Linked DNA regions of Homo sapiens: region 1 is linked to region 2. Evidence: fine-mapped expression QTL. A gene starts in region 2. The other region holds a variant in brackets. All regions are shown on one strand. Distances are from middle to middle.

Region 1 (5,369 bases), 61 kb after region 2:
TTAAGTGCTCTGTACACAAGTCAAAAGAATAGGGCGTGATGAAGAGGATGTGTGTGGGAACCGCGAGGAGGCCATTGAGGTAGAGTGAGCACAGTGACCAGGCCACTGAGGTAGAGTGAGTGCGGTGACCAGAAGGGCTGGGAATAGAGGTCACAGAGGAAAGGCCATGGTGAAGAGTTTGAATTTTCTGAGAGACAGGCATGGTCCAACACTTTGGGAGGCTGAGGTGGGTGGATTGCTTGAGCCCAGGAGTTTGAGGCCAGCCTGGGCAACATGGTGAAACCTGGTCTCTACAGTTTTGTGCGTGTATATGTATACACACACACACACACACATATATACACACATATATACACACATGTATATACATAATGTGTATTTATATGTATAAATTAGCCAGGCGTGGTGGCGCATGCTTGTAGTCCCACCTATTTGGGAAGCTGAGGTGAGAGAATCCCTTGAGCTTGGGAGGTTGAGGCTGCAGTGAGCCAAGATTGTGCCACTGCACTCCAGCCTGGGTGACAGAATGAGACTCTTTCTAAAAAAAAAAAAAAAAAAAAAAACCTTCCATGGGGTGTGACGGAAAGCGACTGTCCTGTCTGTGTGCCATGCCCATTCCTCCCACTGGACCTCTTGTCTGAATGGCCTCCCCAAGCTTCTCCAGCATCCTTGTTATACTTAGATTTCAGGACCCAAGGCCAGTCATGCTATCATTCTGGAGCCTTCTTTGTTTACTCCAGACCACATTCATCTCTTCTTCCAAATTCCTAAGATGGTACCTTGGGTCTTGGGGCTTGGCTAGACTTCAAATTCAAATTCTCAAACATGTACTCTGCCCCCATGTCATGCCTATCACTGTGCTGGTGCAACACGTAGGTAACTCATCCAAGCCTCGCCACCTTCCCATGAGGTTCAAATTATGCCCAGTTTTTACAGATGGGTAAACTGAGGCTTGGAGCAGTTAAGCAACTTATCTGTGGGCTCACATATAAGGAGTGGTGGAGGAAGGATTTGAATGCAGCATCTGATCCCCCAAGTCCAGCTTCGTTCTCACTAGCCCTCAGCCACTTCTGCCTTTACATAATTTGATCATGGTCTTCAGGGGTCCCCAGACCTGCCCCTAATCTCCTTCCGCATCTTCACTTCTGCACGACCCACAGCACCCAGGGATCACCGGAGTAGGCACCCTGCACTTCTCTATGCCCCCTGCCAGTGGGATGTGACACTTGCAGAGTGAATAAGCACCCCTAGGGTGACAGCCAAGGCTGCCCACACCTCTCTCCTCTCCTGCAGTGGGTTCCTACAGGGAGCCAGCAGCCATCCAGTGGAACAAGGGGCCAACACTTCAGAAGAAACTGCCATATGCTGGAGTTGTGTTATTGTCAATATGACTCTTTCTTCCAGGCCTGTGCATGATGGCATGGGAATAGTCATAACAACCTTTACTACAGCAACTCTTCATTGGCACTAGCCCATCTTAAGCTTCTCCTTTTTGGGTTAAATTCAGGATGTCAATAATAATAACAACAATAGTTTTTTTGTTGTTGTTGTTTGTTTGTTTGTTTTGAGACAGAACTCACTCTGTCACCCAGGCTGGATTGCTGTGAAGTGATCTCTGCTCACTGCAGCCTCAATCTCCCAGGCTCAAGTGATCCTCCCAACTTAGCCTCCCGAGTAGCTGGCACTACAGGTGTGCACCACCACACCCAGCTAATTTTTGTATTTTTTGCTGAGATGGGGTTTCGCCATGTTGCCCAGGCTGATCTCAAACTCCTGGGCTCAAACCCTCTGCCTGCTTGGGCCTCCCAGAGTGCTGGGATTACTTGCATGTACCGCTGTGCCTGGACAACAATAGCTATTTTATCAAAAATATGCAAAATGAAAGGAAGCTGCTGGGCACTTTATGTACCCTATCTTATTTAATCCTTATAGAAACCCTAGGATGCAGGTATGATTATTATGCCCATTTTACAGATATAGAAACTGAGTCTCAGGCAGGCAAAGCAACTTGCCTGAGGCCACAGAGCTGATAAATGCTGAAACTCAAATCCCAGCTCCACCCTGAGGCTGGTGGACCTCCAAGTCCTTGATCTCAACCTCTGCACCCAGTTCTACAACCAGATAGGTGTTCAGGAGGTCCAACACAGGCAGTGGATAGGTGAGGAAGGCTTAGTGACTGGGGCTCCTCAGAGAGGTGCATAAAACCAGGGAAACTCAAAGCACTGCAGGGACACTGGTCTGAGTTTCAGGAACCTGGGTCCAGATCCTGGCTTTGCCTCCTCCCAGCCGTGTGTCCTTGCTCATGTTGCCTACCCTCTCTGCACCTTTATTTCCTCAGCTGTGAAATGGGTTGATAATAGATTCGCCCTCCAAGCCTGGTGTAAGAAGGAAGTATGATAATGTCTGTGAACATGCTTTGAGGCCCTGAAGCACCACGCTTAGTGCATTATCATCCATTCCCTGGACTTCTAGAATGAGTGAACCGTGGGAGAATCAGGAACAGCATCGGGGGAAGGAGGAGAGGAAAGTGTCGGATCAGGCTTTTCTGGGTAGACAGAGGTAGGTAAATGTCTTGCTCAGCCAACCTCACATGACAAGAGGAACCTGCTAACTAGGTCACCTTGCAGGAGGAAAGAGCTATTCCGGGATCCGCCTGCAGTTGCAGAGCTGGAGCTGGGGAGCTGAGCTGGCTATTTCAGGGGCGGCACAGAAAGCCCGTCCGACCGCTCTCCCTTGGATCTCGGCCCTGCCTTGGGCCTAGGGCCTTGGGCCTTGAGAGGCAGGGAGATTCTAGTGGACGCTGTGCTGGCACTCTCTGCATGGCTGCCCTCAGGCAGGGGGAACCATCAGGCCATCTGGAACCATCACAACACGATCTTCCCCATCCCCTGGGAACCACCATCCCAGGCAGCTGTGGGTGAGGGTGGCAAGATGCTAGACTTGCATTTCTCAGCCTGACTGGGAGTCTCAGCTCCTGAATGCAATGACCCTGCAACGCTGGGCAGTTTGCTCCAGCATTCTGGGCCTGGGTTTCCTCACTTGTAACATGGGGGTAATGGTGCTTATG[T/C]TCCAGGACTGTCTGAGGATTAAATGAGATAATGATATAAAGCACCAAGCACAGGGTCTGGCCCAGAGGAAGCACTTGATAAATGGGGATTGTTCCTAACTGAGCTTCTGTGGCATTCTATGCTGCAATAGTGATGGCGGGGAGGGGACACCTGAAAGAAGGCTGCACCTTGTGGGATGGGAATGGGGGCGGAAGGAGAGATTATGCTGGAGAAATTGAGCGTTTGAGACTGCTTAAAGAGAAGAATCCTTTTGGGAGGAGCCTGGGACTGTGAGGTCAGTGTGACCCAGGTGAGAATTGCTCAGCTCCCTGCAGGTTGGGCAGGTATGTCTTTACCTTCTGAGCTTCAGGTGCCTTGTCTGCAAAATGAGGCTGAAAATACTTAGCTCCTATAATCTGGCAAGAAATAAGTGAATTAACATAAAGCCTTTATTTAGCATAGTGCTTGGCACCTAGTAGGTGTTCAAGAAATGCCAGCTATTATTGTGTTATCTCATTTAGTCCTCATAGCTACCCTATAAAGAAAGTATTACTATCTTCATTTTATAGATGAGGAAATGGAGGCACAGAGAGGTTAAGTAATTTATGCAGGGTCTCATAGTGAAGAAGCTGTTTTACTAAGATTTGAATTTAGTCTGACCTTGGAATTCGCACTTTTAACTACCACTTCCCATGCTTGTGTGTGTGTGTGTGAGAGAGAGAGAGAGAGAGAAAGTATGTATAGCTATATGCGGATATGTGAAACAAAAAGATGAAAAGTGCCTAGCATGATATGGTTACATAGTCAGTGATCAGTAACCAGCAGCTGTTGTTACTGTAATTGTTATTCCCGTCATGACCATTGTTCACAATTTAATTGGCAATTATGAAACAGGAGTGGCCGGTGAAGGTAGAAAGAGTTCTAAAATATTAGAAAAGGCAACAATCCCATTCTCAAAGGACTTGTCAAAAGGAAAAGGCAAAAGAATAGTCATAAAGTCATAAGTAACTTTCTTGTAGCATTCTCTATAATTAGGAAAAATGGGGAAAATGTATATACCGAAGAATAACGGGGTGGTTACGTAAATTATGGTTGATCAGTGGCTCACACCTGTAATCCCAGCACTTTGGGAGGCTGAGGCGGGCGGATCACATGAGGTCAGGAGTTCAAGACCAGCTTGGCCAACATGGCGAAACCCCATCTCTACTAAAAATGCAAAACTTAGCCGGGTGTGGTGGTGCATGCCTGTAATCCCAGCTACTCAGGAGGCTGAGGCAGGAGAATCGCTTGAACCCAGGAGGTGGAGGTTGCAGTGAACTGAGGTCGCGCCACTGCATTCCAGCCTAGGCAATAGAGTGAGACTCCATCTCAAAAAAAAAAAAAAAGAAAGAAAAGAAAATGACACATTCATTTAGAATGATGATACAAGGACTTGACATGGAAAATGTTTATTACGTAATTACTATTACTGGGGAAATGCTGGATATAAAATTCTATTTCTGCTCTAATTATACCTCTGTTAAAATATCGACTGTATGTAGAGAGGAGCTAGAAAGAATATGCAGTGTCAATGTGATAAATGCTGGCATTGAGTATTTCTCTCTTTGTCATTGATTTAATAACTCAACCATCATTTATTAAGCACGTACTAAGGTCGGTCAGCATGTTAGGCATGGCTATTAGTATGGATTATATTAGGCTGCAGGAAGACTTAACGAGAAAAGAGGTTTTAGTGCCTCTCAGAACATTCAGCGGGGAAGCAGTTCAAAGCCGATGTGGCAGCTTCAGGGTGTCAGGGACCATGGCTCGCTCTCTGGGGGGGCTCTGGCATTTCTAGGGAGTTACCTTTTTCCACATGGTCCTATGGGGTACACCACCATGTCTATGTTCCAGCCAGCAGGGTAAGGAGGAGAAGCGGAGGGCATGCTTCTTCCAGGAAAGGTCTCACTGAAGTTGCTCACACCACCTCCCTCCTTATGCATTGGCCAGAACCTTGTTGCTTGGACACCCCTAGCTGCAAGCTAGACTAAGACACGTCAGGACTTTGGGAGGCCATTAGCCTTGCTAAAAACAGGTCCCAATTACTGCAGAAGAAGGGAGAACAGCAACAGGGGCACCCCTGCAGCATAACAGATTAAGTAAGTCAAAGCCACAATCCTGGAAGAACCCAGTGCCCAGTGAAAGTGACATACACTGTCAAGAAATTGGCTGGGTGCAGTGGCTCATACCTGTAATCTCAGAGCTTTGGGAAGTTGAGGCAGGAGGATCACTTGAGCCCAGGAGTTCAAGCCTGGGCAACAGGAAAAAAAATTTTTTTAATTA
Region 2 (5,369 bases):
GCTCTCCTAGAGAATGCCCCACCACCGCAGCGTCTCTGACCCGGCCTCCTCCCTGACTTCAATCTCTTTCCCAGCTTTTCTCCCACATCTCAGAAGCACCTAGGGATTTTTCCAGAGTGAACTGCAGAGGGTGGCCAGGAACTCACGCTGGTGCTCAGGACTCTGAGGCCAAATCCTGCCAGGCCTGGGCACACTCCACAACCCTCATGTGTAGAATGAGGACTGTGCTTGCCTCACGAAGTTGTCGTAAAGCCATTCGACCTTTCTTGTACCTTCTAGACACCCCACACCTTCCCCAAACATTCATCGTACTTGTGTGCCTTCCTGCCTTGAAACAGGCTCCTCTCCTAAAAACATATTCATCACTCAAGGCTCTGTTCATCACGTCAAATGTCACCGCTTCCCTGAAGCCTGAACTGACCCCAACCTCAACTATTAATAGCTGAAACTGCTCCCTTCTCTGGGTGTGCCCGCTTGGCCGGTCTATTGTCCTGGCTGTACAATCCCCCCCAGAACTATTTTCTTTTTTCTTGAGGAGTCTCGCTCTGTTGCCAGGCTGGAGTGCAGTGGCATGATCTCGGCTCACTGCAACTTCTGCCTCCTGGGTTCAAGCGATTCTCCTGCCTCAGCCTCCCGAGTAGCTGGGACTATAGGCGCGCACCACCATGCCCAGCTAATTTTTATATTTTTAGTAGAGACGGGGTTTCACCATATTAGCCAGGATGGTCTCGATCTGTTGACCTCGTGATCTGCCCGTCTCGGCCTCCCAAAGTGCTGCTTAGCACTGTTTTCTAGAACTCATCACAGTCTTCCTTGCAGCAAGATTAGTTTGTTTTCAGGCCTATCACCCACCTCCTCCCACCTGGGCTGTGATTCCATGAGAACATGCACCAGGTTGACACAGGGCCTGGAATAAAATCAGCACCAATTTGTAGAATAATAATTGCCGTCACTTACTGAGAACTGCCCAGGTATTTGGCACTGTGCTAAAGGCAGCGTAACTACCTGAGGAGACGGGGACCATCTCCCTCTGGGAAACCGCCTCAAAAATCAGAACGGATGGTGTCTTGGGCAAAGGAGAGAGTCAGGGTCCAAAGCTAGGCTGTCTGAACTCGGTGCCACCCAGCTCCTCTCTGGCAGAGCACCAAGCTCCCCCCACCCTACCCTAGGAGCTGGGAAGCCCAGTGGGTTACCCCACCACCCAGTGGCAGCCTCTGCCCTCCAGGTTGTGACATAACAATTGCACAACCCACGAGATATTTTTGAAAGAAACTGTCGGTTTCCTCTCCTGGGCACTGCTGGGGACTGTGGCCCCCATGCCATCCAGTGTCTTCAGCAACCTTGGGACTTTGGAAGCTAAATATAGTCAGGGCTCGGGGTGATAAGGAAATGAAAACGGCAAGACTGTAAAGTGACCCAGTTTTATTTTGGTTTTGGAGGCCAGACAGGGCATTGCTCCACGGGTTCGGGCTGTACAACCTTCCCCTCCTTGAGGTGGGAGGCCCAGCAACCACAGGGCCCAGGCAGCGGGGTGGGAGGCTCAGGAGATGGTGGCTCTGGGGACCCGATCCCGAGGAGAGAGGGGGCAGCAGGCAGAGGCCTGCAATGGCTCAGATTGGGGGAAGAGGGCGGCGAGGGGGAGAGGACACGATCCAAGAACCAGAGTCCGAAAGCTGAAGCTGGTCCGGTCTCTTTCACTTTACGGCCGAGGCTGGGGTCAGAGAAGTGAAGCCAAACTGTCCTCCCGCAGGAGGCAAGGCCTGGAGGGACGCCAGGGTCCCAGTCCGGTGCCGGGCCCTGCGCACACAGCCGCCGCCTCCACCCTCGCGGAGGGCGCGCGCGGGGCCCAGTCGCTGGGTGCAGGGTCCGGCGGGCAGTCGGGCCCTTTCTCCTCTCCGGCACGCCGGGCGGGCGCCGGCCGCCCTCAGCAGCTCACGGAGCCGGCGGGCGGCGCGGACCCCAAGTCCGAGAAGCAGTCGAACTCGCTCTGGCCCAGGAAGAGCTCGGGCAGCTCGCGCACGCGGTGCAGCCCGAGCTCCAGCTCCAGCGACGTCAGCGCCTCCTCGTCGATGAGTTCGGCGTCCATGCCGCCCAGGGCGTGCGCGGGCGGCGGCGGGGCTGCGGCGCTTGGCGCCGGCTGCGGGCCCGGGGGGCCTCCCGGAGCGTTGGGGGGCGCGGCCGCGCGGCCGGGGTACGGCGTCGCCACAGGCTGCAGGTGCGCGATGCCCGCGGCCGGCGGAGGCACGGCCGGAAAGGGCTGGAAGGAGGACGGCGGCCCGAAGGCCCCGTACGCCAGGGCCCCGGGTTGGCGGGGCGGCGGCGGCCCCAGCGGAGCCCCCCGCGGCCTCAGCCCACTGTCCAGGCCCGGGCCCGCGTACGGCGGCAGAGTCCGGAGCGCATGAGGGCCATGGGCGGCCGCGGCGGACGGCGGCCTCTGCACCAGGCGGTAGCCCTCGGCGAGCATCAGGTGGTCGGCCATGGCGGCAGGCCGGCTGCCTGCGGGGACAGCGCGCGGTGGTCAGCGCCGGCTCCCCCGGCCCGGGCCAGCGGCTGCTCTGCGGCGGGAGACCCGGGCACCGTGCGGTCCCTGCAGCTCGGCCGGGCGGAGCAAAACCAAACCCGACTGGTGCCCCGGCCCAGCCCACTACTGCGCACCTTGCGGCCGCAGCCTGGGGTCACAAAGGCCCGCAACCTGTAGTGCTCCGAAACCTCCGCGTCGCGTAGCTGGGCTCGGCGTATTCTTATACCCAGAGGCGGGGCTTCCCCGCCCTCGGACGCTCATTGGCTGGGCGAGACGCTTCTGGGCGGGCCGCGCACGCCTGCATCTAGGTCTTGGCCCCGCCCCTCCCACTGGAACCCCGCCCCTTGGGACTCCGGCCACGCCCCAGGCTCTGAGCACCGCCCTGGGGCGGGGTATTTGGCACTTTCGGAGGGATTCGGTCTGGCCCTCAGGGCTTCGGAATCGGACTTGGCTGGGGTAGAGCTTGAACTGACCAGAAGGTGGGGTGGGAGGGCCAGAGTTTTAGGCCCCCCAAGAGCTGCAGGATGTCAGGCCTACGCAACCTTTTAACTTTCCAGGTAGAGACCGAGGCTCAGTGGCGGAAGAGGCTTCCTGGAAATACACAGCAAAGCCTTGATCAAAGTGAGACTGCACAGCTACACAGGGCGCATGCACCTTAGCGGTGCAGGGTCCCCGCAGGAGGTCAGCTGTCCATTCCCATAACCCCCAGGAGAGCCTGTTGCTCCCCCTCTAGTTCCCACTGCACCTTGTCTGTTGAAGCATGTACTTAGTTGTTATTAATTTATGGGCACGTCTCCTGAAGGACTTGTTCATCTTCTTCTTCTCAGCACTTGGCCCAGAGCCTGGCCCAGAGCAGGCTTTTAGTAAAAGCTGAGTGAATGAACTAATGATGGAATGAATTGCAACTCTCAGCTGAGCCTCAGTTTCTTCATCTGTAAAAGGTAAAGAACAGCAGCACTGACCCTTTGTGAGGGGTAAGTGAGGGCATGTGTGCACAGTGCCTAGCACAGTGCCTGGTATGTGGTAGATGCTCAAAAGTGTCCCTTAGATGAAAGAAAGGCTATTTAAGTTCTTTTTTTTTTTTTTTTTGAGACGGAGTCTCGCTCTTTCGCCCAGGCTGGACTGCAGTGGCGCTGTCTTGGCTCACTGCAAGCTCCGCCTCCCGGGTTCACGCCATTCTCCTGCCTCAGTCTCCCGAGTAGCTGGGACTACAGGCGCCCGCTACCACGCCCGGCTAATTTTTTTTGTATTTTTAGTAGAGACGGGGTTTCACCGTGTTAGCCAGGATGGTCTCGATCTGCTGACCTCGTGATCCGCCCGCCTCGGCCTCCCAAAGTGCTGGAATTACAGGCGTGAGCCACCGCGCCCGGCCAAGGCTATTTAAGTTCTGTCCCAAAGGGCCTTCTCTTGATAACAGCAATAATAACTTGGACTTTTAAAGTGCTTTACATTCTACAAGTATTTTGTTGGGGGCAGGGCATGGATTATCAGCCCCATTTCAGTGATAAGGAGAAGCACACAAAGAGAAAGTGGCTGTCCTGAGGTCACAGGCAGCCAGAGTTAGCGTGTGAATGCCATGTGTTTTCCAAGTCCTTAGGGCAACTGGAGTCTTTCCTGTGGCCAGGAGACAGCCTCCCAGAACCTTACCCTCCACGCATTTGACACTCTCTCTCCCTTCTCTGACCTTCCCCCGACCTGTGGCATCCTTGGGACTTCCTGGAACTTGGGTTTATCCAGTTGATGTAGAGGGGAGAGCCCTAGAGTGAGAATTCAGGGGCCCAAGGTCTTTTCTTCCCTCTTTCTTCTTATTTTTTTAAATAGAGAAGGGAGCGGGGGGGAGGGGCGGCGTGGGGGAGTGAGGAGGGCCTCAGGCTTATCTCGAATCCCTGGCCTCAAGTGACCCTCTCACCTCAGGCTTCCAAAGTGCTAGGATTACAGGCATGAGCCACTGCGCCCAGCCAGAGGCCCAAGTTCTAATCATATCTCTGCCACCCACAGGTGTGTGACCTCCACCACCAACCAGCTGTGACTGTTGAGTGTTGAGCGGGGAGTATTACTTGATTCCCCAGGGCCTCAGCTTTCTGCTCTGTGAAAGGGAGACGGTGATCTTGCCTGGTCAGCCTGAGAGCTTGTGGGTAGTGATAAATGACCATGGGTGTGGTCACATTTTTGCAAAGTGTAAAAAGCTACACCCTGGAATTTATTCTCCTGAATCTTTCTCTACAGGTAAGGCTTCTCACAGAAATTCTTAAACCTGGCCATGCCTCACACTTATCTGGAGATGTGGGGGGTAAGGGGTGGGTGAGTGGGGGCTTTGATAAAGACGGAAAATCTGCCCAATTTGGGAGATGAAAGTGAGAGGATTGCTTGAGCCCAGGAGCTCAAGACCAGCCTGGGAAACATAGTGAGACCGTGTCTCTACAAAAAGTTAAATAATTAGTTGGGCATAGTGGCATGTATCTGTAGTCTGAGCTACCCAGGAGGCTCAGGTGGGAGGATTAGCTGAGCCCTGGAGGTGGAGGCTGCAGTGAGCCATGATGGCACCACTGCACTCCAGCCTGGGCGACAGAGATCTTGTCTCAAAAAAATCAACAAGCAGGCCAGGTGAGTGGCTCACGCTTGTAATCCCAGCACTTTGGGAGGCCGAGGTAAGTAGATCCCTTGAGCTCAGGAGTTTGAGACCCCTGTTTCTGAAAAAATAAAAAATTAACTTGGCATGGTGGTGTGCACTTGTAGTCCTTGCTACTTGGGAGGTTGAGGTGGGAGGATCACTTGAACCTGGGAAGTTGAGGCTACAGTGAGCTATGATCACACCACTGCACTCCAGCCCGGGTGATGTAGGGAGACC

What was found. PIP is the estimated chance that this variant, and not a neighbour inherited with it, causes the effect.
Region 1: its variant is fine-mapped to the expression of CITED4 in whole blood (INTERVAL, PIP above 0.99).

The regions. Positions count from the first base shown.
Region 1 is chr1:40,920,481-40,925,849 of GRCh38, forward strand. No RefSeq gene overlaps it. Among named protein-coding and RNA genes, the nearest start is that of CTPS1, 57 kb to the right of the region's middle. The variant T/C (reference allele first, on the strand shown) is at 3,068.
Region 2 is chr1:40,859,649-40,865,017 of GRCh38, forward strand. CITED4 (Cbp/p300 interacting transactivator with Glu/Asp rich carboxy-terminal domain 4) reads right to left here and starts at 2,715. Exons shown (of 1, transcript NM_133467.3): 1 at 1,406-2,715. The coding sequence starts at 2,479. The coding sequence ends at 1,925. LOC124904157 (a long non-coding RNA gene) reads left to right here and starts at 2,736. Exons shown (of 3, transcript XR_007066025.1): 1 at 2,736-3,462; 2 at 4,520-4,747. RefSeq lists silencers at 2,502-2,581, 2,742-2,941 and an enhancer at 3,042-3,101.